4 linked regions of the Homo sapiens genome follow. The protein of the gene in region 4 interacts with the protein of the main gene of each other region in a pairwise test. Each region holds a gene or a part of one and is shown on either strand. Other genes may lie near its edges.

The links.
Region 1: the proteins of CREM (region 4) and MKNK1 interact in binary tests that used the Homo sapiens proteins (3 or more experiments, as listed by UniProt).
Region 2: the proteins of CREM (region 4) and UBAP2 interact in binary tests that used the Homo sapiens proteins (3 or more experiments, as listed by UniProt).
Region 3: the proteins of CREM (region 4) and GLIS2 interact in binary tests that used the Homo sapiens proteins (3 or more experiments, as listed by UniProt).

What each region holds. Positions count from the first base shown.
Region 1 is NC_000001.11:46,566,243-46,573,268, reverse strand, and holds part of MKNK1 (MAP kinase-interacting serine/threonine-protein kinase 1), read left to right. Parts: intron 1-1,101; coding exon 1,102-1,206; intron 1,207-1,729; coding exon of another isoform or gene 1,730-1,852; intron 1,853-3,013; exon of another isoform or gene 3,014-4,770; coding exon 4,771-4,826; intron 4,827-4,971; exon of another isoform or gene 4,972-5,063; intron 5,064-7,026. UniProt on the Homo sapiens protein: May play a role in the response to environmental stress and cytokines. Appears to regulate translation by phosphorylating EIF4E, thus increasing the affinity of this protein for the 7-methylguanosine-containing mRNA cap.
Region 2 is NC_000009.12:34,038,870-34,045,895, reverse strand, and holds part of UBAP2 (ubiquitin-associated protein 2), read left to right. Parts: intron 1-7,026. UniProt on the Homo sapiens protein: Recruits the ubiquitination machinery to RNA polymerase II for polyubiquitination, removal and degradation, when the transcription-coupled nucleotide excision repair (TC-NER) machinery fails to resolve DNA damage. May promote the degradation of ANXA2.
Region 3 is NC_000016.10:4,326,051-4,333,076, reverse strand, and holds part of GLIS2 (zinc finger protein GLIS2), read right to left. Parts: intron 6,648-7,026; exon of another isoform or gene 6,583-6,647; intron 4,818-6,582; exon of another isoform or gene 4,737-4,817; intron 3,968-4,736; exon of another isoform or gene 3,908-3,967; intron 863-3,907; 5' UTR 797-862; coding exon 625-796; intron 1-624. UniProt on the Homo sapiens protein: Can act either as a transcriptional repressor or as a transcriptional activator, depending on the cell context. Acts as a repressor of the Hedgehog signaling pathway. Represses the Hedgehog-dependent expression of Wnt4.
Region 4 is NC_000010.11:35,185,838-35,192,863, reverse strand, and holds part of CREM (cAMP-responsive element modulator), read right to left. Parts: intron 4,665-7,026; coding exon 4,476-4,664; intron 1-4,475.

The sequences.
Region 1 (7,026 bases), on a different chromosome or scaffold from region 4:
ATCCCTGCAGCAGTCAGACCACAAGTCCTGCTGGGGGATGTCTGCACAGACTCGGAGGCCTGACTGACGCCCTGGGCCTAAGTCCTGGCCTCACCCCTTACTGGTGCGTAATCTTGGGCAAGTTGCTCAACCATTTTTCTTTTTGGCTTCAGGATCTCCCTCTGTAAAACGAGAATAAGTGTACTACCCATTTTGTCCAATTGTGGTGAGAATAAGACAGTTTATTTCAAGAGTATTCCATAGCACATGGCACTAGTAACTACTCAGTAAATGTTAGCCATTGCCAACAAAACAATAATGAATGGGAAAGCTCAGGCGGAAAACCCATTTTTCCCCCCTTTTCCCAGGCCTTTACATGTCTGGCAAGGGTGTGGCATTTCCATTTGAAAGTTTGTGCTCTTGTTTGGATCAGAGATCAGATGCAGGGGAGAAAACGTTGCTGCAGAAAGGCCCCCTCAGCTCCAAGTGCCTTCAGTTTTATTCCTTTTGATTGCAGAAGCCAAATCAGCCTCAGCATCATTAGTGTTTTTTGGCCCTATTTATAGTTGTTCTCTCTCGCTTCTGAGCTCCTCATAGACAGGTACAGAAGAGAGTAGTCCAGTTTTGTTTAACAGACATACAAGCTGGTACCTCCTCCGTACCAGGCCCCACACTTGGAGCTGGACAGGTAGTGATGAGTCAGCGATGAATCCCTATGTCCCCACCCCAAGTTTTCCAAACTTGGGAAAACTTGGCCTCTAAGAAGTTATACGGCCAGGCGCAGTGGCTCACGCCTGTAATCCCAACAGTTTGGGAGGCTGAGGCAGGCGGATCACTTGGTCGGGAGTTCGAGACCAGCCTGACCAACATGGTGAAACCCCATCTCTACTAAAAAAAAAAAGTACAAAAATTAGCTGGACATGGTGGTGCCTGCCTGTAATCCCAGCTACTCAGGAGGCTGAGACAGGAGAATCGCTTGAACCCGGAGGCGGAGGTTGCAGTGAGCCGAGATCGTGCCACTACTCTCCAGCCTGGGTAACAGAGTGAGACTTCGTCTAAAAAAAAAACTTATACTTACTAGAGCCCAAAAAGGCATTCTTCTATGTCCCCTCTGCTCCCCAGGTTCCATCTTAGCCCACATCCAGAAGCAAAAGCACTTCAATGAGCGAGAAGCCAGCCGAGTGGTGCGGGACGTTGCTGCTGCCCTTGACTTCCTGCATACCAAAGGTGAACCCAGCCTTTGCCTTGGTGGGTGGGTTGGGCTGGCCAGCCTCTGGGTACCAAGGGAGGTGGTAGGCCAGGCAGAGGGCTGGTGCAGGAGATGGTGTGGCTGGAAGGCAGCTTGAGGTGTGAACATGCTCACCCATGGGAGTTGAGGGAGAAACAGTCCAGGATGGCTCCTAGGCTTATGCTGCGGATGGTGGGTGGGTGGTGAAGCTGTTGAGCAGCACAGGGATACAGGAGAAAGAGCAGGGAGGAGAAAGAATAAATTTCACATTGAACAGGGTATGTGTGACTGTGTGTGGATGATGTTTCTTTTCTTAGATTCTTATCGTGTGAGGAATATAAAGCTCATACACAATACAACCTTCTTAGTGTGAATATCTTGATGTTATTCCTTCTAGTCTTAAAATATACATCACCTCTGTCTCTTTTCAAAATTGGCATGATAGGATATATGTAGTTTAATATATCTTGTTCACAGTAAATGAAAAATCTATTTTTCTTTTTCCTTTTTTTTCCTTTTTAGACAAAGTCTCTCTCTGTCACCTAGGCTGGAGTGCTATGGCGCCATCAGGGCTCACTGCAGCCCCAACCTCCCTGGGCTCCAGTGATCCTCCCACCTCAGCCTCCCAAGTAGCTGGGACTACAGGTGTGTGCCACCACCTGGAAATTTTTGTATTTTTTTGTAGAGATGGGGTCTCCCTCTGTTGCCCAGGCTGGTCTCAAACTCCTGGGCTCAAGCGATCCTCCTGCCTCAACCTCCCAAAGTGCTGGGATTACAGGTGTGAGTCACTGTGCCCAGCTTATACTTTTCTATTAACATGTACATTTGAGGTATCTGTTGAAAAGCACATTGGTAACTCACAGGTTACTAGTATTTGATTTACGCTTCAGGTTACAGCCCCTTTCCTATGACTGATTATTCAGGAACTTTTGTAGTGAATTAAATCTTTCCACAAATTGTTTTTACATTTCCATAAATCTGTTTGACTATTACATACTTTTTTTTAAATTTGCCTAACAGCAGTACCCTGGAAAAAATGAATTCTGGTTTCACTTTTCTTCTAGCTATGTGTTCTCTCAGTAATAATGCCTACCCTATGGTGAGAATTTGAGATAATAACATCATCGACTGTAGTTAACACTATATAGCACTTGGTATGTGCTAGGCACTATTCTAAGCTTTTTATAGATGAAAAATGTGTATCTTGTGTTTGTATTGTATATGTGCAGCATAGATGGAGCATAGTTCCTGGTATGTCATAGTTCTTCAATAAATAACGATTTCCTCCATCCTCACCTCCCACCAGGAAGAAAGCATTTTTATTCCTAATATTAATTCCCTTAAAGCATTCTGCCTGTTGGGGGTGGGAGTGAAATGAATAACTTGTGACTTAGGTCTGCCCCCTCTGCTGTTGCGGATGTTGGCCAGCCATGTTGGTTGTGGGTGCCCGGGACCAGTGGTAGGCATGCCACTCACACATCCCACCTGGTGCCCACAATCCGGTGCAGACCAGTGTGGCGCATGTCCAGGAGGTTCAGGTTCATTGACCCCACCTCCCTCCTCCAGTGGCTGAAAGAGGTCTGCATACTGACAGTGCCCATGTTGGGGCCCTGACTTGCACCTAGGATGAAAACTAGAAGGGGGTGTCTGTACCTTCCGCAGCATGATGAATAGCATCAGCTCTGTTTCTGAAAGCTGGGATGCATAGAGGTAACACCTGCCTGACAAAGATTTACAACTGCTCCCCAAGCTGCCTCTGTAGATTGCAAAACTGGGTCACGCTTTTTACAAGATCCACACCTTGGAGGGGGTGGTAAAGGCAGGTTTTATTATTTATTTATTTACAAGAATGCACTGAAGGGAACAGAGGCCGGTGGTGTCTTAGGAGTTCTGAGGCGCTTGTTAACATGTAGCTGGCCAGCTGCCCATGTGACTAGAAGTTGGAGGGGATGAAAAACGATTTCCAGCTGAACTTGGCTGTTTGCTAAATAACTTCACACGGGGAAGATGAATTGGGCAAGAATGGGTCAGCCCTGAAACAAGTTCCATACTTTTAAATACTGGACACACTGCAGCTCAACCTCTGGGAAATGAACCGGAGCAGCTCGATGGCTGCTGTGCTCACACGGCAGCCCCATTATTACAGCCTGGCTCTCTGAGTTCTTAGGCTAAGGGACGACTGGGCCATGGGCGCCTATTTGGAGAGTAAGGCTCCGTGTGTGGCTCGTGATCCTTCTGTGGGAGCACTTGCTGTAATGGAAAATATCTTCCACTTTTAGTGCAGCGAGCTGCAGAGCAGTGCTACTCAATTTGTGCAGCCTGGACTGAGTTGCTCTGGGTTCTCGTTCAATTAGGTGACTGATGAAGTTACTGAGCTTGCTGGAGCTCAGGTTTTTCTTCTTTAGTGAAGTGCCTCCCGTGGCCTGGGCCAGGCTTTTGCCTTCTAGTCGGGAATCGGAGGACTGCTGAAAAAGTTGATCACCGACGGAGTTTTAGTGAAGCAGATTTTGCTTTTCCCATCACCCCGAGAATCCGCTGCCGCTTTCCAATACTTCCAACTGTAGCTCTGACTCTTGCTCAGCCTTCCAGCCCTGTCTCTGTGCTGCATGTGCTGTGGAAGGAAAGACAAAAGGGAGGTTTCTGTGTCCTCCACCAAAACACCATGACCCAGAGTTAGTTCTTTGTCCCTTTCTTTGGTTAGAAGAGGGCTCTCCCCGAGGTGCCTTCTTGGCCAGGTCAGCAGGTTAACCCCTCATGGGCTAAGCTGCTATCTCCAGTCGCCTTCAGGAGGCCTGGCCAAAGTGCAGAGGTTTTCTCTTAAAAACAGCAACCCTCAGTGGGCCTAGCGAGGTGGCTCACACCTGTAATCCCCATGCTTAGGGAGGCCAAGGGAGGAGGATTGCTTAAGGCCAGGATTTCAAGAACAGCCTGGCTATAGCGAGACTCCATCTCTATTTTAAAAAACAAAAATAACAGCATCCTGGTGCCAAAGCGGTCTTTGCTCTGCTGCTGGCAGGGCTGCCTTAGACATGCAAAGCAGGTGAGAAGGGAATAGGTCACTTTGGGAGATTTGGTAACTAACACTTGCTCCTCTGAACATTCAGACAGTCGCACTGAAGGAATTTTTTTTTTTAAATCGGCCACACAAGAAGAAATGAGGTAGAGCAGTTAAGCCCCCTGAGATGCTCTTAAACAAGGCACTAATTATTTCTGCATTGCTGTTCCAAGCATTGCCGTTTGCAGAGCTCTCTGCTCTGCTCTGCATTAGGCCTTCTTCTTGGTGGTCACTGTGGTACTGAGGGGTAGGCTGGCTGGGATTCATTTAGCCCTTCTTATCCCTGCCAGACTTCTAAAGCCTCCTCTTCAAAAGAACCCGCAGAATCAACTGTGCTTTTGGTTTGTGTCGCTGGTTACTTCTGCCTCCTGCAGCTCGTTGATTTTTTAATGTACCATAATTGGGAATTAATCTGCGAACTACAGCATTTGGAAAAAATTAATTGTGTGTGGAATGTTTGATAATTATCTGCATATGTTAACCATTTTTTTGCTCTTTGTCATGTCAGGCATTGCTCATCGTGATCTGAAACCAGAAAATATATTGTGTGAATCTCCAGAAAAGGTACTTTGGGCCTGATTTGGAATGTTATAGTTTATACTTACCGAGGAAGCCACCCTTGCTTTCAGGATGGATTGTTAGCAGTTCCGTTGGCCTCAGACACCAACTTGAACTGATCGTCTTGGACATGTGAGAATGTTACACTTACTGTGTGATGTTTCTGCCCATCCTCGTCCTTTCTTCGCTCTTGATCATCAGTGTGATTGATGTAAGCCTGAGAGTTTGGAAAATATATGAGACCTGCACAAAATTAATATTTTCTAGTCCAATGCATCTATCTTTATATCAGTTGATGGAAGTCGTAAATACTTTTTTTTTTTTTTTGAGACGGGGTCTCACTTTGCCACCCAAGCTGGAATGCAGTGGCATGATCACAGCTCACTGCAGCCTCGACTTCCCAGGCTCAAGTGGTTCTCCCACCTCAGCCCCCCAAGTAGCTGAGACAACAGGCATGTGCCACCACACCTGGCTAATTTTTGTATTTTTAGTAGAGACAGGGGTTTCACCATGTTAGCCAGGCTGGTCTCGAACTCCTGAGCTCAAGCAGTCCACCTGCCTTGGCTTTCCAAAGTACTGGGATTGCAAACGTGAGCCACCATGCCCAGCCAAACAACTTAATCTTATGTGAAGCAGATCTCTTTAAGTAAACGGAAGTGTATGAATTTGACAAATTCTGTGTTTATTAGGAGAGATTTAGGCACTGGTGGTGTTGGGGCCCACGTTCACAGCTCTGCGTGTATATACATGTGTGTATTCAAGAGCATATATATTGTGGTCTGGATGAAGCCGCGGCTCATAAATAAGGGGTGGCCTTGAATGAATGAGTCAGTCTGCTACTCACAACTCTTTTATGGGGAATAATAATGGATTCGCTCAAATAAGATCTTGTGACTTCTGTCACTGATTCTGTCGTAGACCTTTATAATTTATCATTATTATGATGATTACTACTAATAATTACAGTGAACACTTCTTGAGTGCTTACATTGTGCCAGGCACTTATATTTATTTAGTGTTTATGAAATATCATGAGGTAGATACTATTATTACCTTCATTTTATGGACGAGGAAACTGAAACTCAAGTTAGGAAACATGTATAGCCAGTGAGCCATGATTGCACCACTGCACTCCAGCCTGGGCAGCAGAGATTCTGTCTCATAACAAGAACGTGAGGAAAGGCAAGGCGAAAGAGAGGAATAATTGGGACCAGGCAGTGGCTCACGCCTATAATCCCAACACTTCGGGAGGCTGAGGCAGGAGGATCCCTTGAGGCCAGGAGCTTAAGAACAGCCTGGGCAACAAAGCGAGACCCCATCTCCACAAAAAATTTAAAAATTAGCTGGTCACAGCGGTTGCATGCCTGTAGTCCCAGCTACTCAGGAGGCTGAGGTAGGAGAATTGCTTGAGCCTGGAGTTTGAGGCCAGCCTGGGTGATATAGTGAGACCCCTGTCTCTTAAGAAAAAGAGAGGTTAAGTTTCAAAGGACATTATCTATCAAGAAAGTGAAAAGACAATCTACAGAATGTGAGAAAATATTTGCAGATCATATATCTGGTCAAGGTTTAATATCCAAAATATATAAAGGATTCCTAAAACTCTACAACAAAAAGACAAACCAATTTAAAAATGGACACGGGACTTGAACAGACATTTCTCCAAATAAGGTACACAAATGTCCAACAAGTACATGAAAAGATGCTCAACATCCTTAGTCATTAGGGAAATGCAAGTCAAAACCACAATGAGATACCACCACATACTACTAGGTAGGCTGTAATTTAAAAAATGGAAAATAGTAAGTGTTGTTACGGTTATGGAGAAATCGTAACCCTCATACATTGCTGGTGAGATTATATAATGGTGCAGCTTCTGTGGAAAAGTTTGGCGGTTCCTCAAAGGCTAAACACAGAATTACCATATGACCCAGCAATTCCACTCCTAGGTATTACCCAAAACAATTGAAAACAGATACTTGTATAGCAGTATTCATTACAGCATTGTTCACAACAGCCAAAAAGGTAGAGACAACTCAAGTGGTCATCAGCAGCTGAACAGATAAACAAAATGTGGTACATACATTCAATGGAATACTAGTCAGCCATAAAATGGAATGAGGTTTTGATACATGCTGCAACATGAATGAACCTTGAAAACATTATGCTAAGTGAAATAAGCCAAACATAACAGGACAAATATTGTGTA
Region 2 (7,026 bases), on a different chromosome or scaffold from region 4:
GTAGGGAATATCACCATGTAATCTTTGTGGTAGATTTTGAAGTAATTTTGCCCCAACTATCAAGTATTTAGGAATAGGATCCTTTTTTTACTAACTCAAAGAATCAAATTTATCAGATTAGTTTTTACAATTTTAATGTAAACCACTTATGCTGATATTTCCTGCTGAGTTTACTTGACATTTTTTAAGTTTCTCAAAGATGCTCCTTAAAAATTTTCTTTTGTGACTGGGCACTGTGGCTCATGTCTGTAATCCCAGCACTTTGGGAGGCGGAGGCGGGCGGGTCACGAGGTCGGGAGTTCGAGACTAACCTAACCAACATGGTGAAACCCCGTCTCTACTAAAAATACAAAAATGAGCCTGGTGTGGTGGCGCGTGCCTGTAGTCCCAGCTGCTCCAGAGGCTGAGGCGGTAGAATTGCTTGAACCTGGGAGGTGGAGGTTGCTGTGAGCCATGTGCCATTGGACTTCATCCAGCCTGGATGGAGCAAGACTCCGTCTCAAAAAAAAATTTTTTTTTTAATTTTTATTTTTTTCTACCCTTTTTTTTTTTTGAAGACAGTCTCACTGTTGCCCAAATTGGAGTGCAGTGGTGCAATCTCGGCTCACTTCAAGCTCCGCCTTCTGGGTTCATGCCATTTTCCTGCCTCAGCCTCCCGAGTACCTGGGACTACTGGCGCCTGCCGCCACGCCCGGCTAATTTTTTGTATTTTTATTAGAGACGGGGTTTCACAGTGTTAGCCAGATGGTCTTGATCTCCTAACCTCGTGATCCGCCCGCCTCGGCCTCCCAAAGTGCTGGGATTACAGGGGTGAGCCACGGCGCCCAGCCTTTTTTTACCCGTTTGTAAACAATGTTTGATAAGTTTCCATTTTTTGATAACTAATTTTCATGCTGGACATAGCATAATTGAATTGGAATCCAGTTAACTATTTGGATTTGAAGTATGAAATAGGGCTCACATTAAGGAGTAGAGTAGGTGTTTTATTTAAGACTAGGTAATACTCTTCATTTATTTATTTATTTATTTACAGATGGAGTCTCGCTCTGTCACCCAGGTTGGAGTGCAGTGGTACGATCTTCGCCCACTGCAACCTCTGCCCACCGGGTTCAAGTGATGCTCCTGCCTCAGCCTCCTGAGTAGCTGGGGTTACAGGCGCCTGCCAACACACTTGGCTAATTTTTGTAATTTTAGTAGAGATGGGATTTCACCATGTTGGCCATATTGGTCTTGGAACTCCTGACCTCAGGTGATCCACCTGCCTTGGCCTCCCAAAGTGCTGGGATTACTTGCGTGAGCCACCACACCTGGCTTCTTCTTTTATTTTTATTTTCTTGAGACAGTCTTTCTCTGTCGCCCAGGCTGGAGTGCTGTGGTGCCTTGGCTCACTGTAACCTCTGCCTCCCTGGCTTAAGTGATTCTTGTGCCTCAACTTCCCAAGCAGCTGGGACTACAGGCATGCATCACCACGCCCAGCTAATTTTTTTTTTTTTTCGAGACAGAGTCTTGCTCTCTTGCCCAGGCTGGAGTGCAGTGGCGCTATCTCGGCTCACTGCAAACTCCGCCTCCCAGGTTCACGCCATTCTCCTGCCTCAGCCTCCCGAGTAGCTGGGACTACAGGCGTGTGCTGTCAAGCCTGGCTAATTTTTTGTATTTTTAGTAGAGACAAGGTTTCACCGTGTTAGCCAGGATGGTCTTGATCTCCTGACCTCGTGTGTGATCTGCCCGCCTCGGCCTCCCAAAGTGCTGGGATTACAGGCGTGAGTCACCGCGCCCGGCTAATTTTTTTTTTTTTTTTTTTTTTTGAGGTGGAGTTTCATTCTGTCACCCAGGCCAGAGTGCAGTGGTGTGATCTCTGTTCACTGCAATCTCCGCCTACTGGGTTCAAGCGATTAGCCTGCCACCGTGCTCTGATAATTTTCGTATTTTTTGTAGAGACAGGATTTTGTCATTTTGGCCATGCTGGTTTTGAACTCCTGACCTCAGGTGATCCACCTGCTTCGGCCTCCCAAAGTGCTGAGATTACAGTTGTGGACCACTGTGCCTGGCCTTTTTTTTCCCCCTGAAACATGGAGTATATGTTTAAAAAAAAAAAAAGTTGGAGCCTGGCTCCATGGCTCCTGCGTGTAATTCCAACGCTTTGGGAGGCTGAGGTGGAAGGATTTCTTGAGCAGGAGTTCGAGACCAGCGTGGGCAATATAGTGAGACCCTGTCTCTATAAAAAAAATGTAAAAATTAACTGGGCATGATTGCATGTACCCAGAGTCCCATCTACTTGTGAGGCTGAGGTGGGAGGATTGCTTGAGGCCACAGTGAGCTATGATTGTGCCATTGCACTCCAGCTTGGGTGACAGAGTGAGACCCTATCTCCATAAATAATAGGATCATACTTTGCATACTTGCTGATTTTTATTGAAAAATACAGCATAGTTTGGGTGTGGTGGCTCATGCCTGTAATCCCAGCACTTTGGGAGGCCGAGGCAGGTGAATCACTTGAGCCCAGGAGTTGGAGAGCAGCTTAGACAACGTGGCAAAACCCTGTCTTTACTAAAAATACAAAAATTAGCTGGGCATGGTGTGCTTGTAGTCCCAGCTACTCAGGAGGCTGAGGTTGGAGGATTGCTTAAGCCTGGGTGGTTGAGACTGCAGTGGGCTGTGATTGTGCCACTGCACTTCAGCCTGGGTGACAGACCCTGTCTCAGAAGAAAAACCCAAAAAACAGCATACATACCGTAGATGATATATGAGGCATAAAAACATGTAGAGTTGTCATTGTATAACGTAGAAGGTGGTTGGGGGTAAACACATATGTAGAGTTGTTTTTTTTGGAGACAGGGTCTTGCTTTGTCGCCCAGGATGGAGTGTCTTGGCATGATCATGGCTCACTGCAGCCTCTATCTCCCAGGATTAAGGCATCCTCCCACCTCAGCCTCCTGAGTAGCTTGGACCACAGGGATGCATCACCATGCTCAGCTAATTTTTCTTTTTGTAGAGAGGAGTCTTGCTATGTTGCCCAGGCTGGTCTCTTAGGCTAAAGTGATCCTCCTGCCTTGGCCTACTAAAGTGCTGAGATTACAGGTGTGAGCTTAATGCCTGGCCCCATATGTAAAATTAAAAAAAAAAAGTAAAATGAACAACCAAGAAATAGGACATTACTGCTACCTGGAAGTCTCCTGTGTATGCCAGCTCCCAAGGCATTTCTTTTCGCTTTCCTTGAGGTAACCATTACCCTACATTATAGGTTTACTATTCCTTTGTGTTGTTGTTTTAAAATAGAGACAAGGTCTAGCTATGTTGCCCAGGGTGGTCTTGAACTCCTGGACTCAAGTGATCCTCCTGCTTGGCCTCCCAGAGTCCTGGGATTATAGGTATGAGTCACTCTGCAGGTTCTACTGTTCCTTTTTTTTTTTTTTTTTTTGAGACGGAGTCTTGCACTATCGCCTGGGCTGAAGTGTAGTGGCCCGATCTCAGCTCACTGCAACCTCCACCTCCCAAGTTCAAGCGAATCTCCAGCCTCCATCTCCCGAGTAGCTCGGATTATAGGTGCCCGCCACCACGCCTGGCTAATTTTTTGTATTTTTGGTAGAGATGGGGTTTCACTGTGTTGGCCAGGCTGGTCTCAAACTCCTGACCTCATGATCCGCCCACCTGAGCTCCCAAAGTGCTGGGATTACAGGCATGAGCCACCACCCCAGCCTACTGTTACTTTTTTACAATAATTTTACCTTATATGTATATCCGTAAGCAACATATGGTTTAATAGTGCCCATTTTCAGTCTTATTCTCAATGTAAGAATTGTATGATTCTTCTGATGCTTGATTCTTTCACTCTTACATGCTTGAGATTTATCCATGTTGATTTCTTTTTTTTGAGATAGGGTCTCAGTCTGTTGCTCAGGCTGGAGTGCAGTGGCTCGATCCTGGCTCACTGCAACATTCACCTCCCGGGTTCAAGCGATTCTCCTTCCTCAGCCTCCCAAATAGCTGGGACTACAGGTGCCCGCCACCATGCCTGGCTAATTTTTGTATTTTTTGGTAGAGACGGGGTTTCCTTGTGTTAGCCAGGCTGGTCTCGAACTCCTGACCTCAGGTGATCTGCCTGCTTCGGCCTCCCAAAGTTCTGGTATTACAGGCATGAGCCACTGCACCCAGCCCCCATGTAGATTTCTTTTTTCTTTGTTTTGTTTTATAAGACGGAGTCTTGCTCTTTTGCCCAGGCTGGAATGCCAGTGGCACGATCTCGGCTTCTCAGCTCACTGCAGCCTCTGCCTCCTTGGTTCAAGCAATTCTCCTGCCTCGGCCTCCCGAGTAGCTGGGATTACAGACACCTGCCACCATGCTCAGCTAATTTTTGTATTCTTAGTAGAGACGGGGTTTCACCATGTTGGCCAGGCTGGTCATGGACTCTTGTTTGTTTTTTTTTTTTTTTTTGAGATGGAGTTTGCTCTTGTTGCCCAGGCTAGAGTGCAATGGTGCGATCTTGGCTCACTGCAACCTCTGCCTCCTGGGTTCAAGCAATTCTCCTGCCTCAGCCTCCCAAGTAGCTGGGATTACAGGCAGGCACCACCATGCCTGGCTAATTTTTTTTTTTTTTTTTGCATTTTTAGTAGAGCTGTGGGTTCACTATGTTGGGCAGGCTGGTCTCGAACTCCTGACCTCCAGCGATCTGCCCACCTCGGCCTCCCAAAGTGCCGGGATTACAGGTGTTAGCCATCGTGCCCGGCCCGTTGATTTCTTATAGTAGTATGAGGTTACATTGTAAGGATGTGCCATATGTTGTCTATTTCATTGTTGATGGATATTTGTCTCATTTCCAGTTTTTTGAGATTACCAATTTTACTTGTCCTCATGTGGACATTTGCCACCCTGCCCACAACAAACAAAGTCCATTTTCTCAAGACTACATAACTGAGAGTGGAATTTTTGGTTTGTATGTAGGGTATGTGTAACTTTTACTAAGTAATGCTAAAGTGTTTTCCACATGTTGCACAGTTGTTCTCAGGCTTGTCAGCTGAACCACAGAACACAGAAAGTTGAGTTACTATTTTCTCAAATCTGTCAAGGATGGTACATAATGAATTTCATTCTAGGTGTCTGGAAAAAGTTCAGCTTATACACAGAGTGGATGCCCTAAGAATTGGGAATTCATTCTCAAAGACTGAGTGGTTTAAGAGTTCTACATCCTTGCCAACATTTTATGTTGCCTTTTTAGTTTTAGCCAATTGTAGTGGGATGTTCTAGATATATCTTTCATGAACGCCACATAGCTGGATTTTGCTTTGTTAAGTTAGCAACTTGCTAACTTCTTTTTAATTAATTAGAGTGTATCGCTATGTTGGCTGGGCTGGTCGTGAACTCCTGGGCTCAAGTGATCTTCCCACCTCACCCGCACAAAGTGCTGGGATTGTAGGAGTGAGCCATCAGCTAACCTCTTTAACTAGAGCATGGAGACCATTCATATCTGTTGTAATTACAGATATTTTGGATATATGTCTGCCATTATATTTAGTCTTCTAGTTGGCTGGCCTGTGTGTTTGTTTTCTGTCCCTTTTTTTTTTTTTTTTTTTTTTTTGAGACAGAGTCTCATTCTGTCACCCAGGCTGGAGTGCAATGGCGTGGGCTCGGCTCACTGCAACCTCCGCCTCCCGAGTTTAAGGGATTCTTCTGCCCCAGCCTCCCTAGTAGCTGGGACTACAGGCACGTGCCACCACACCTGGCTAATTTTTTTTTTTTTTTGAGACGGAGTCTAGCCCTTGTCGCCCAGGCTAGTGTGCAATGGCGTGATCTTGGCTCAACGCAACCTCCGCCTCCTGGGTTCAAGTGATTCTCCTGCCTCAGCCTCCCAAGTAGCTGGGATTACAGGCATGTGCCACCATGCCCCCGGCTAATTTTGTACTTTTAGTAGAGTCGGGGTTTCTCCATGTTCATCAGGCTGGTCTTGAACTCCCGACCTCAGGTGATCGCCCGCCTCGGCCTCCCAAAGTGCTGGGATTACAGACGTGAGCCACCGTGTGCGGCTTGTATTTTTTTTTTTTTTTTTTTTTTTTTAGTATTTATTGATCATTCTTGGGTGTTTCTCGCAGAGGGGGATTTGGCAGGGTCATAGGACAATAGTGGAGGGAAGGTCAGCAGATAAACAAGTGAACAAGGGTCTCTGGTTTTCCTAGGCAGAGGTCCCTGCGGCCTTCTGCAGTGTTTGTGTCCCTGGGTACTTGAGATTAGGGAGTGGTGATGACTCTTAACTGCCTTCAAGCATCTGTTTAACAAAGCACATCTTGCACCGCCCTTTATCCATTTAACCCTGAGTGGACACAGCACATGTTTCAGAGAGCACGGGGTTGGGGGTAAGGTTATAGATTAACAGCATCCCAAGGCAGAAGAATTTTTCTTAGTACAGAACAAAATGGAGTCTCCTATGTCTACTTCTTTCTACACAAACACAGCAACAATCTGATTTCTCTATCTTTTCCCCACATTTCCCCCTTTTCTATTCGACAAAACCGCCATCGTCATCATGGCCCGTTCTCAATGAGCAGTTGGGTACACCTCCCAGATGAGGTGGCGGCCGGGCAGAGGGGCTCCTCACTTCCCAGAAGGGGTGGCCGGGCAGAGGCGCCCCCCCCACCTCTCGGACGGGGCGGCGGCCAGGCGGAGGCGCCCCCCAACTCCCCAACGGGGCGGCTGGCCGGGCGGGGGCTGCCCCCCACCTCCCTCCCGGAAGGGGCGGCTGGCTGGGCGGAGGCTGCCCCCCACCTCCCAGACGGGCCGGCTGCCGGGCGGAGACGCTCCTCACTTCCCAGACGGGGTGGCTGCCGGGCGGAGGGGCTCCTCACTTCCCAGACGGGGCGGCTGCTGGGCGGAGGGGCTCCTCACTTCTCAGACGGGTCGGCCGGGCAGAGACGCTCCTCAACTCCCAGACGGGGTCGCGGTCGGGCAGAGGCGCTCCTCACATCCCAGATGGGGTGGCGGGGCAGAGGCGCTCCCCACATCCCAGACGGGGTGGCGGGGCAGAGGCGCTCCCCACAT
Region 3 (7,026 bases), on a different chromosome or scaffold from region 4:
AATAACAGAACAGGACTCGAACCCAGGGCCCCTGGGTCCCTGTCAGACGGGCAGGTAGGAACCTTTCTAGCTTTTCCCAGGCCCCTTCCTGCCTCAGTGTTCCCTTCTGTAAAGTGGCAGGTTCGGGCTGGGCTGCTCCCATAGCCTTCCCCTTCAGACAAGCGGTGAATCTGGTTTTCGGGTGACTCTGCTCTTGGAGGCAGGGCAGAAGTGGTGCCCACCACCCTGGGCCCAAGCACCGGGAATCCCTGAGAGGCACCTCCTGGGCTCAGACCCAGCCTCTACTGCCCAGGTTGGCCAGCGGCACCACCCCACAGCCTAGGGTGCAGGTCCTGGGACTACTGCCGCTCCTTCTGAATGCCTGGTTGCCCGACCAGCTCTGTTCCAGATCTGCCTAGAGGCCTCAGTTTGCATCGTGTGCCAGCCACGTGAGCTGGGCACTGCAGCTCCCACCTCCCTGCAGACATACGATGCTGGGCGGATGGAAGGACAAGCGTGCGGGCTTCCCATGAACCGGAAGCCGAGAGGGGCTGCAGCTACATGCTGGTGGACACACTTGGCCATTCTCCCTGTCACCATGACTGGATCAGGGCTAAGTCCCCCTGCCCTGCCCAGGGCCAGTACCTGAGGGCGGGGAGCCTGGAGAGCCAGGTGTGGGGCTGTCATCCACCAGGCCCAGCTCCCTGTGCAGAGCACGGGGCCGGACCACACCCAGCGTCCTCTCCCGCTTCTCTCTTGCCGCCCGGAGCTTGGTGATACTCAGCTTCAGGTCGAGCGGCTCGTCCAGGGAGTGCATGGTGAGGGGGCCGGAGTTGGAGGTGGCAGCAGGCAGTGGGCTCCCAGCTGGTCTTCACGCAGGAACCTGGGGAAGGACAGGAGCTGTGCTGTGGCACTGAGACCCCAGGCTTCTCCTCGGGCTGTACTCATGACAGTCTAACAGGAGCAGGAGCAGGGGGCAGTGTGAGGTTGTCTCCTGGGTAGGGAGACCCTCCGAGCGACCTGGCCGGCAGCTATCATGGGGGGAGAGCCAACAGCCTCCTCAGAGATTCCGCATCTGCTTCCCATGAGTCTCTTGGGGAAGACAAAGCTCACATTCTTCATTTTGCCATGAAACTGAATTTTATTTGCTGACAGAGTCTCGCTCTGTCACTCAGGCTGGAGTGCAAGTGGCACAATCATAGCTCACTGCAGCCTCGACCTCCTAGGCTCAAGCGATCCTCCCACCTCAGCCTCCCTGGTAGCTGGGACTACAGGCAGGCACCGCTCCTGGCTAATTAAAAAAAAAAATTTTCTTTTTTGTAGAGATCGGGTCTCTCCATGTTGCCCAAACTGATCTCGAACTCCTGGCCTCAAGCGATCCTCCTGCCTTGGCCTCCCAAAACGCTGGGACTACATGCCTGAGCCACCACGCTTGGCGAAACTGCGTCTTTTACAGGCATCGCCTCAGATCGCAGAGCTCAGAAGTGGAAAAACTATCAGATTTGCCAAGACCAGCTCGGTCGGGAGACTAATCCGGCGGCGCTAGAGGAATTAAAGACACATACGCAGAAATATAGCGGTGTGGGGTGGGAAATCAGGGGTCTCACAGCCTTCAGAGCTGAGAGCCTTGAACAGAGATTTACCCACGTATTTATTGACAGCAAGCCAGTCATTAGCATAGTTTCTATAGATTATAGACTAACTGAAAGTATTCCTTATGGGAAATAAAGGGATGGGTCTGGCTAGTTATCTGCAGCAGGAGCGTGTCCTTAAGGCACAGATCACTCATGCCATTGTTTGTGGTTCAAGAACGCCTGTGGCCGGGCGCAGTAACTCACACCTGTAATCCCAGCACTTTGGGAGGCCAAGGCGGGGAGATCACGAGGTCAGGAGATAGAGACCATCCTGGCTAACACGCTGAAACCCCAACTCTATTAAATAACAAAAAAAAAAATTAGCCAGGTGTGGTGGCGGGCGCCTGTAGTCCCAGCTACTCGGGAGGCTGAGGCAGGAGAATGGTGTGAACCCGGGACGCAGAGCTTGCAGTGAGCCGAGATCGCACCACTGCACTCCAGCCTGGGCGACAGAGCAAGACTCCGTCTCAAAAACAAACAAACAAACAAAAAGCCAAACGCTTTTAAGCAGTTTTTCCGCCCTGGGTGGGCCAGGTGTTCCTTGCCCTCATTCTGGTAAACCTACAACCTTCCAGCGTGGGCGTCATGGCCATCATGAACATGTCACAGCGCTGCAGAGATTTTATTTATGGCCAGTTTTGGGGCTAGTTTACAGCCAGATTTTGGGGGGCCTGTTCCCAACAAGATTCAAGGCCTGAAGCCAGATCTCCCGGGAACTGGCTAGCCGTGTCCTAACAGCCTTTTCTGACAGAGCAGGAGCCATGCTCCGGACTCCCGCCCTGTTTGACCCCAAAGATCTAGAACCAGGCCAGGGGGCAAGGAGCATCCTCTGAAATGGCCGGCAGGTAGCCACGCTCACCACCAAGGAACTCGCACCAGGCAAACCGAGAAAGTGGGCACAGCCAGGGGCCCCACCGCCCTCCCTGCAGAGGCCTAGAGGAGAGGCATCGCAAGCCAGGGAGCCCCAGGGCGCTGGGTCGCCACCAGGGGGCAGCTGGGGATTGTGGCCTGGCCTGGCCAGCTGGGGCAGGGTTGGTGGAGTTGACCAGCTGTATCTGGCGGTTAATATATAAATATGTAGAAATTATTTTTTACTGGAGATGGTATTCTTTTAGTATCACTTCCCATGCTGTAATTTTCATCATTTTTCTTAGAATTTCTCACTGGTTTAATTTTCATTTTCTTTTTGGAAATGGAGTCTCTCAGTCACCCAGGCTGGAGTGCAGTGGTGTGATCTGGGCTCACTGCAACCTCTGCCTCCCGAGTTCAAGCGATTGTCCTGCCTCAGCCTCCCAAGTAGCTGGGATTACAGGTGTACACCATCACACCCAGCTAATTTTTCTATTTTTAGTAGCGACAGCGTTTCACCATGTTGGCCAGGCTGGTCTCAAACTCCTGACCTCAGGTGATCTGCCCACCTCGGCCTCCCAAAGTGCTGTGATTACAGGTGTGAGCCACCTCGCCCCACCTGGTGTAATTTTCCTCACATGCAAATGATCTAACAGTATCCACCGACCCAAGAACAAGGTCAACACTTCATTCTAAACCCAAACTTCACATTCAGAGCAGCAATCTTTTCCTACGCGGTTAAACACGACATTTCCTTGCGTTTGTTCATTGGGATTATTACAACTTGAAAATCTAACTGCCGCACAATCACGCTGTGAGATCCCGTCTTTCGCGGTATTGGGGTCTTTACTCAATACCAAAGGGCGGCCATGGTGGACATAACTACTACATGGTGAAATACTTTGGATATGCCCCCGTGTGTTTCCCTGGGGGCTAGCATAGCCTGTGAGTGGGGAGAGATGCTGTCCACAGGGCAGGACAGGAAGGCAGCTCCCACGTCCTCCCCTTCTGCCCTGACTCTCCAAGCAAGTAGGGCATAAAATGGTCCCCCCTTCACTGGAGATCCTCTGCTTCTAGGGACACATCCCCAGACCCCACCCCAACATGGCTGACACGGGGGTCTCAGCACAGGGGGGCTGCCCACCTCTCCCAAGGCTGCATCATCAGAGCCAGGGCAGCTGCACTAGGCCGTGGGACCTAGGTCTGCGATTCGCCCCTGTTGGAGCTGTCAGATTGTTTGAATTTGCCTCCCAGGCCATGCATGGGCCAGGGGCTCCCAGAGATGCGGTGGGGTAGGGACCACACCCCCGCTAGCAGGTGGGTGGGTGACAGTGATGGATGGACCAGGGTCCCCTCCACTGTTTCTCTGGCTGGACAGGGAGTTGCCCTCTGCCTGAACCCCTGCCAGTTCCATCTGTCTATCTGTGTGTCTATCGTCCTGCTACCTGTTTATTTTTAGACACAGGCGCAATCCAGCCTCCCCGAAGCTCCTCTGTGCTGGAAGCCTGGACGGGGAGGAAGGAAGTAAATATTTATGCTGATGAAGAATTCAGGAGCCAGGAAGGGCTGGTGGCCTGGTCCCTTGGCTGGCCTGGGGCCACAGGCCTCCCCACAGCCTCTGTCCTCACCCCCACCCCCACCCTTCCGGAGAAGGGGACCACAAGGGCAGGATGGTTTGGGAACTGGGAATTCCAGCTGACGGGGACACTCACTGGCAGCGCTGCCCAAGCAACATCCTTTGGCACCTGCCCCACTGCCTTCCCAGGACAGATGGGGACTCGGGGAGCCAGGGGCCCTGAGTCACCTTGTTCTTAGGGCCTGCAGGGGACACTTCCCCAGGAGGAGCCTGTCTCCCCAGGTGGGGCCAGCCACACGGCCCAAAGCCAGAGGGAGGACTCCAATGCACCCCCTTCATCAGCAGGTCCAGTCCCCAGGGGCACCCCCACACACTTCCTGCCACTGGGTCCTGCCAGGGAGGCAGGGGTTCATTCCAATGCAGGCCAGAGCCCGGCACACGGCCTGCGTCCCTGCCCCCGGGAAAGGAAGGAGCTGCCCCCAGCCCTACACCTCCCAGCATCCCTGTTCCAGGCCCTCCCCACCCAGAGTTTTTCCTCCAATGGAGGCCCCACCCCAGAGGGGAGACGGTCAGTGACCCTGCTTCAGTTCTGACCTTGGCCAGGCTTAAAGCCTCCCCTTCCACCCCCGCCCCGACCGGCAGCAGCCAGTTCTGGGCTCTGCTCTGTGCTTTTGTTCCCGGCTGGGTGAAGGGGGCAGGCGAGAGCTAGGTTCCTGCTCTCCTGAAAGCCTCGGAGGCCCAGAGCGGGGAGCAGCGGGCCTGCAACCAGGGAACCCTGAGTGAGTGCCCATGAGCGGGTGGCCGTGGCTCTCCCCAGCGTAAGGCCGACAGCCTGGCTCTGGACAAGCTCAGCCAGAGGCCTGGGTGCTAATTACTGCGGGGTCCCGAGGGCAGGAGCCGGCTCTCGGTCAGGTGGGGGCACCCCGTGGATGCTCCCCGGGCGCAGCGCAAGGCCCGCCGGCCCCACGCCCCTCTGCGCCTCCTGGTGGAGCCTTCCGTTCCTCAGTTTCCCCCCGGTGGGACAGCGCAGCGTGGAGGGTGCACAGAGCCCAGGGCCGCGTCTCTCGAGCACTCAGCCTGGGATGCGCCCAGGGCAGCGCCCCCACACGCAAGGGCCCAGGGGTTGGGGCGAGGGCTGGGGTTGTCGGTGGGGGGTGGGGGTGGCCGCGGAACCGGCCGCTGCGCGGCTCCTCCAGCTGCAAAAGGAACTAATTAGAGCGGGGCGAGCGGGAGGAAGCGGCTGCGGCGAGGGAGGAAGCGCGCGGGGGCGGCCGCGGGGACCACCGGGACGGCGGGGGCTTCGGGGGACCGGGCCCTGCCCTTCCCACCCACCGCAGGGCGGGGGTCACCCGGAGGGTGGGCTGGGCGGGCCCCCCGCCACCCTGGCCGAGACAATGGCTGCTATTGTGTGCCCGACCGCAGCCCGAGCAGACGGCCCCCAGCTGCAGCGCTGGCGGAGCCACCCGGCCCCCCGCCCGCAGTCCCCGGCCAGGCCAGGTAGCCAAGGATCCCGCCCTGGCAGGCGGGGCCGGCCACTGTCCCCACCCTCCCTACTGGAAGGCACGGGGCGACCCAGCACACTCAGGGAAACTAAGGCCCGGAAAAGACAGTCTCTTCCAGGGCCCCTTGGCCTGGGGTGGGTCATACACCAGAGGGGGTAAAGGACCATTAGGTACTGACCACGTGTCAGGCCCATCTGTCCATGGATTCAATGACCCCTCTACAACCCTGCCTGGCAGTAGCTGCTGTCATTTTCCCGATCTCACAGATGGGGAAACTGAGGCTTGAGATCACTAGGCTAATAGGGAGCTGGTTGGAGTCCTGCTCTGAATAAAGCTCCTTCTAGGCCAGGCGCGGTGGCTGACGCCTGTAAGCCCAGCACATTGGGAGGCCGAGGCAGGAGAATCCCTTGAGTGCAGGAGTTCTACACCAGCCTGGGCAACATGGAAAAATCCCGTTTGAAGTAAAAAAATCAGCCGGTGGCCGGGCACGGTGGCTCATGCCTGTAATCCCAGCACTTTGGGAGGCCGAGGGCGGACCACCTGAGGTCAGGAGTTCCAGACCAGCCTGGCCAACATGGCGAAACGCTCTCTCTACTAAAAATACGAAAATTAGCCGGGCGTGGTGGCAGGTGTCTGTAATTCCAGCTACCCGGGAGGCTGAGGCAGGAGAATCGCTTGAACCAGGGAGGCAGAAGTTGCAGTGAGCTGAGATCGCGCCACTGCACTCCAGCCTGGGCGACGGAGTGAGACTCCATCTCGGAAAAAAAAAAAAAAAAAAAAATAGCTGGGCGTGGAAGCAGGGACCTGTGGTCCCAGCTACTCGGGAGGCTGAGGTGGGAGGATCGCCTGAGCCTGGGGAGTTTGAGGCTGCAGTAAGCCGAGATCACACCACTGCACTCCGGCCTGTCTCAAAAAACAACAAAAAAAGCTCCTCCTTTCCTGCTTGGGGGAGGGTGGCTGGCAGGCCCTAAGCCTGTGGAGGTGCAGGGTGCACTGGGGGGCTGTGTGCACCCACCCTGAGAACCACTTGGTCTCTTTGCAGAAGGAAGCGGGTCCTCTGTAAGATGGGGCTGCATCCCTGCCCCGCTCCCAGCAGCATGGGGTCAGGTGAGTGACCAGCGTGGCAGTGTTGTCAAGGGCAATGTGAGGAACACCCCTTGCCTTGGAGTGTCCTGCGAGTGCGCTTTTGGTCAGCAGTGGCCATTTAGCTGAGAACTTGGAGACAAGGCCTCAAGATGCATCTCTCAGAAGTCTATGTGGTCACCTTTGTTTTTTTTGTTTGTTTCTTTTTTGAGATGGAGTCTCACTCTGTCACCCAGGCTGGAGTGCAGTGGCACGATCTCAGCTCACTGCAAGCTCCGCCTCCCAGGTTCACAGCATTCTCCTGCCTCAGCCTCCTGAGTTGCTGGGACTACAGGCGCCCACCACCACACCCGGCTAATTTTTTTGTGTGTATTTTTTTAGTAGAGATAGGGTTTCACCGTGT
Region 4 (7,026 bases):
AGATTTGGAGCTTTGTCTAACAGGTCACAGACATTGATGGATGCTTTTGAGTGGATGCTATAGACTGAATGTTTGTATCCCCACCCAATTTCCTCTGTTGAAATCCTCACCTCCAATGCAATAGTATTTGGAGGTGGAACCTCTGAGAGGTGATGAGGTCATGAGGGTGACACCCTTGTGAACAGGATTAGTGCCCTTATTAAAAAGACCCCAGACACCAGGTGTGGTGGCTCATGCCTATAATCGTAGCACTTTAGGATGCCGAGATGGACGGATTACCTAAACTCAGGAGTTCAAGACCAGCCTGGCCAACATGGTGTAACCCCGTCTCTACTAAAAATACAAAAATTAGCTGGGCATGGTGGTACATGCCTGTAATCCCAGCTACTCGGGAAGCTGAGGCAGGAGAAATGCTTGAGCCCAGGAGACAGAGGTTGCAGTGAGCTAAGATCACATCACTGTGTTCCAGCCTGGCCAAGAGAGTGAGACTCTGTCTCAAAACAAAACAAAACGAAACAAAACAAAACAAGTGCAATGCAGTAATGGAGATGTTGGGGGCAAGAAACTGCTGTTTTTAAGAACTATCAGTGGCTCCCAGAATCACTGTGAGGAATGAAGAGTTTAGCTGAACTTTCAGGAACAATTCCCAAAAAACTGAGCCAAGAAGGGAGCTGCTGCCTCTGGCATGATTAGGAGGATCAGAAAGCTGTTCCACAATAGCCAGCTTCCGGTGGCTGCCGGAGACTGTAGCCCACAGGGGTAGCCTGGGTCAGAGGGATAGCACCCAGGCCAGGGCCAGGGCCAGGACAGAGGGCTGTGGAGTGGCAGAAGCATTCATGGCTCAGCCAGGCAGAAGAATCTACACAGTGACTTTGAATGGAGACTGGGAAGAATACTGGACAACACCTAGGTTTCTGGCATCAAGGATAGTAGTGGTCAATCACTGAAGATAGGAAGAGTGGATTTTAGGAGTCAGAGGTATGTGTGGCCATCTAAGGAACCAGCTGGAGTCAGGACATAGTCACAGTGAACTGAAGCCAGCGTGGGAGGGAGTCCTTCAGGGAGGGAGCTCAGCAGGAAGAGGGTGGGGGAGTGAGCCTGAGGATCACTGAAACACTCAGGACAGGGGCAGGGGAAGCTTAGCCCAGCAACAGGACTGACAGAGAAGCAGCAGAGAGAGAAGAGCAAGGAGGACACAGTCTCAGGAAGTGGAGGAAGCAGAAGTCGACAGTGTTAAATACTGCTGAGGCATCAGCCAAGACAGGCACTGAGAATCCACAAAGAAGCTGACAGGGCCCTTCAGTGAGATGAAGGGAGAAGGAGGGCAGGGAACACTGCCACTAAGTTCAGGAAGACAAGAATGCCCACTGGCCTTGCTGTGTTTAAACTGGAGCTCCTGGCCATGATTATTTAAGGAAAAGAAAAAAAGAGAAAAAGAAAACAGGAATAAAGATTGGAAGGGAGGAAACAAAACATCACTATTTGTATAAACATTCACATAGGATCACAGACCGAATCACAAAGAATCAGTAAATTATTAGAAGTAATTAGAGTTCAGCAAAGTTAATAGATAAAAGATCGACTTAAAATAATCCGTATTTCTCTACACCAGCAACAATTAGAAAATACAATACAAAATAAGGTACCATTGTAATGGCAACAAAACCCATAAAGTACTTAGGAACCAACTAAAGAAAGAATATGCAAGATCTCCGTGAAGAAAAATGTTCAACTGTTCCCTAAAACTTAAAGTATAATAAATAAATAAATAAATAAAAAGAAAAATGTTCAACTGTTAAAAGAAGTAAAATGAGATCTGAATAAACAAGACTTTCTATGGTTTGGGATAGGTCAACTTAACATTATGAAGACTTCAGCTCTCCCTAAATTAAATGCAGTCTTGGCTGGGCATGGTGGCTCATGCCTGTAATCCCAGCACTTCGGGAGGCTGAGGTGGGCGGATCATGAGGTCAGGAGATCGAGACCATCCTGGCGAACATGGTGAAACCCTGTATCTACTAAAAATACAAAAAAATTAGTCGGACATGGTGGCAGGCGCCTGTAGTCCCAGCTACTTGGGAGGCTGAGGCAGAAGAATGGCGTGAACCCGGGAGGTGGAGCTTGCAGTGAGCCATCGTGCCACTGCACTCCAGGCAGGGCAACAGAGCGAGACTCCATCTCAAGAAAAAAAAAATTAATGCAGTCTCATCATTGGTTTTATTATTATTATTATTACTACTACTATTTAGAAACTCAAACTTATTCCAAATGCATATGAAAGAATAATCGTGCACAAAAAACTAACTCTGTATCAAACTGAGAAAAAAGACAAGGGGAACTTGTTTTATGAGATAACAAACATGTATGGCGCTGGGATTCAGAAAAAGATGAATCAGACAGAAGACTGGCCAGATCCAGGTGCAAAAGCAAACCCACTGTCTAATTAAGGCTGCCCCATACACCAGTGAGGAAACAACAAACCCTTGGGAGTGGCTCCATATACGGAGAAAAAAGTTAAAAATGAATTCCCACCAAATACTATATACAGAAGTGAAGCCCAGATACATTAAAGACATAAATGTGAAAGGTAAAACCATAAAGCAAATAGAAGAAAATGTGGAAAAAAATCTTTGTGACTTGTGGAAGAAAATTCTTAAAAACCCCAAGGCACAAACTTACGTGCATATTGTGTAAAACATTAAAAATTCTCAAAACTCTGTTGTTTGCAGTAGATTCTTCCATGTAACAAAGATAAAATGAGAAGAAATAATTATTCTTTAAGATTATTCACCTAGACATAAATATGGTCCATGAGTATGGGGGGAATAGAACAGGTGGCTTTCATTTTACATTTCAAGAAAACATTAAAGTACTGGGTTTGTACTATGCATTTTTTACTCCATAAATGCCACCACCTCAGTTCTTCACACACTTTTACCATAGTCCACATTAACCCCCAAAATACCTGAGTATAATTATCAAGAGACTCATCAATTATAATATGCTTATCATACCTGCAAGACATTCGAACTAAAATAACTGATTTTACTTTCCTTAACGTTAGTGCTGCCTGTAATCCCAGCACTTTGGGAGGCCAAGGTGGGTGGACTGCCTGAGCTCAGGAGTTCACGACCAGCCTGGGCAATACGGTGAAACCCCGTCTCTACTAAAATACAATAAATTAGCCGGGCATGGCGTTATGCACCTGTAGTCCCAGCTACTCGGGAGGCTGAGGCAGAAGAATTGCTTGAACCTGGGAGGCGGAGGTCGCAGTGAGCCGAGATCGCGCCACTGCACTCCAGCCTGGGCAACAGAGCGAGACTCTGTCTCAAAAATAAATAAATAAATAAATAAATAAACAAACAAACAAACAAGCAAGCAAATTTTTAAAAAATAGTGCTATATCCTAAATCCTAAGCGAATGGACCAAGAGGAATAGAATTCAATTAAAACACAGGAGTTTTGAAAGCTGTATTAAATACATCTATTACAGTTATCATAGGCACAACTGAATTAAAATAATGTATAACGCAAATCCAGTTGAAATCTCAGGTAACCCTAAAAGCTTAGGGCTACATCTCAACTTTTATTTCATTACTGACAGCTTCCATAAGAGCTAGAATGGATACTTCAGAATTCAAACAACTAAGAACAGTCAGTCAAAAAAACAAACAAACAAAAAAAAACAAAAAACCCAAAGTCAGCATTTGTTTTGAAATGAGTTGCCTAGAAATTAGACTTGAAAGTAACAGCTAGGGAAAAAAACAAATTTGGGGCATCATAGCCTGAATACTTAAATTGTCATAGATTAGGTAATAGAAATCTATTAGGTACAACATTTGCAACCCCCAAATGAAGGATATCTAATTAATTTAAAAATTCATTCATGTGGCCGGGTGCGGTGGCTCACGTCTGTAATCCCAGCACTTTAGGAGGCTGAGGCCTCCACCTGAGGTCAGGACGACTCCATCTGAGGTCAGGAGTTTGAGACCAGCCTGCCCAACATGGTGAAACCCCGTCTCTACTAAAAATACAAAAATTAGCCAGGCGTGGTGGCTCATGCCTGTAATCCCAGCTCCCCGGGAAGCTGAGGCAGAAGAATCACTTGAACCCAGGAGACAGGTTGCAGTGAGCCGAGATCACGCCATTGTACTCCAGCCTGGGCGCCAGAGCGAGACTCCATCTCAAAAAAAAAAAAAAAAAATTCATTCATGTTTCTATCTCTCTTTTTCTATCATGCTACTCTGAATTTGGCCTTTCTCCAGAGCCAGTAAAACCTGCTAAAAGGCGAAAAATGATAAAACTTAATTTGCTGTTTAATGTATTAAAATATTTCTTCTGTAAGCCTTTTTAAGTGCCTCCCAACCCCCCACCATCTACCTTCGATCTATTTCAAAAAACTATAAAATCACCACTCAATGGTGTGATATAGTAATCCATAGGTATTCTAAATGTATTAGATTAATAAAATATACCTTGAACAACAACCTGGCTGCCTGGGACAAAGAACTGCTGTGTGCCATCAGCTGATTGTGCTGCGTACTGTACAATTGTAGCACCTGGTGGAGGAGCTCCTGAATTTGTCATTGTTAATGCCTGCAGTCCCTGAACACCATCAGATCCTGGGTTAGAAATCTGGATTGTTCCACCTTGGGCTATAGCAACTTAACAGAAAAAGAAAAGAAATATTAGAGAATTTCAAGATTTATTTTTAATAATCCCCTATTGGAAGAATATACTCTGGGTCTATTTATTACCATTGCTTCTTTCTCAGGTTACCCTTATTTTCTATGCTGAATTGAGAAGGAAGATCAGCTTCGTCATGGGACGATACTCTAGGAAAAGCTTATAAACACTTGAAAATATTTTATATTCAGAAATGTTTGAGATTCATAGAGCCCATGGAGTGTTCCTCCTCCTTAGCATCCAGCTGACTACATCACTCAAGAGGAAGAGTGGAGAAGGAGACAGGGAGAGTCCAGCTTCCTGGTTTTCTCCATTCTCTCAGATGTTTTTCCTTATAAACACCATTCTTCTACCATTTAAAATTCCCATTTAAGGCCAGGTGTGGTGGCTCATGCCTGTGATCCCAGCACTTTGGGAGGCCAAGGCAGGAGGATCACTTGAGCCCAGGAGTTCAAGGCCAGCCTGGGCAACACAGGAAAACCCTGTCTCTAAAAAAAGAAAAGAAAAGAAAAGAAAAATTCCCATTTAATATTGCAATTAAAATGAATTTCTACCTTCATTCAGCTAACTACTTTTCTGATTTGTCATCAAAAGAAAGTAGTTTTTAAGAAATATATAGGCAAGGTGCAGTGGCTCACGCCTGTAAACTTAGGACTTTGGGAGGCCAAGGTAGGCAGATCACCTGAGGTCAGGAGTTTGAGACCAGCCTGATCAATATGGTGAAACCCCGCCTCTACTAAAAATACAAAAATTAGCCAGGTGTGGTGGCAGGTGTCTGTAGTCCCAGTTACTCGGGAGGCTGAGACAGGAGAATCACTTGAACCCGGGAGTTGGAGGTTGCAGTGAGCTGAGATTGCGGCACTGCACTCCAGCCTGGGCAACAGAGACTCCATCTAAAAAAAAAAACCAACATACATATAATTATATATGTTATATATAATTATATATTTTATATATATAAATATATAATATATATTATATATTAATATATTTATATATTAATATTAATATATAATATATATTATATATATTATATATTAATATATTAATATATTTATATATTTATATAATATATATCATATATATTATATATTATATATATTATTATATTAATTATATATATTAATTATATATAATATATATTATATGTGATATATATTATATATTATATTATATATAATATATAATATATATCACATATAATATATAAATTATATATTTATATATATAATTTATATTGTATTTATATATAACATATATTTTAATAATTATTATATTTTTATAATTATTTATATTTTATATATAATATATAATTATATATAACATATATACGTATATATACCTATATATGTATATATGTTATGTACAATTATATATAACATAATTATGTTATATATAATTTGTTATATATTATATATAACTATATATAATTATAACTATATATAATTATATATAGTTATATATGTTGTATATATGACCAAAATTTTTAATATATATTTATTATAATTATATATGTCATATGTTATATATAACTATATAATTTACATATATTATATATTTATATATAAATATATATAAAAACATATTTTGGTTATAAAGCTAAAGTCTAGAAAACTGTAACCTTTGCCATTTTGTCTATGTCAGGAGAATCCTGAAATATAAATTGTCAAGTTGCAAAGGTCCTTAAAAAGTAACTGTTACTAAAAGGATTTGTGCTACAATATTTACCTCTACCAAGTATCTCAAGTAACTACAGCTAATGGCAACAAATAGGAAGTAGATTTCCTTTAAATACTGAGATCTGCCAGTCATGTTTAAAAGTTAACATATTAATTGACTTGAAGCTTCCAAAGAATAACTGATCAAACGTTTTGTTTCAAAATTTCACTCTAATAGACAAGTATTATTTAAAATATCTGAAAGGTCTGTATATTTTAACATAAAGATTCCAACTGCATGCTTCAAACAGTAGATATTAAATGGTACCAGAGGCTATGCTTTTTAAAAAATCACATATAAACTAGCTAACTAGGCTTTACAATGAAGATTTTAAAAACACATCACCAGAATAACATGACATCTATACATCAATGTAAATACCTTACAGTAGCGTAACAGTAGTGTTTAAAATACACTCTGAATATTTTCAAGTCATTTCCAAACGTTTTTAAAGGCATCTAGGCAAAAAAGCACTTAGGCGATAACCTGATAGGACAAACCTATGAGAATTATGGAAAGAGTAACAACAACAAATTTTCACTTCTTTCACCTAAGGTGCCAGTGTCTACACAGGAAGATAGATTAACATTTTTAAAAAGACTTCCACATGCTGCGTTCTCT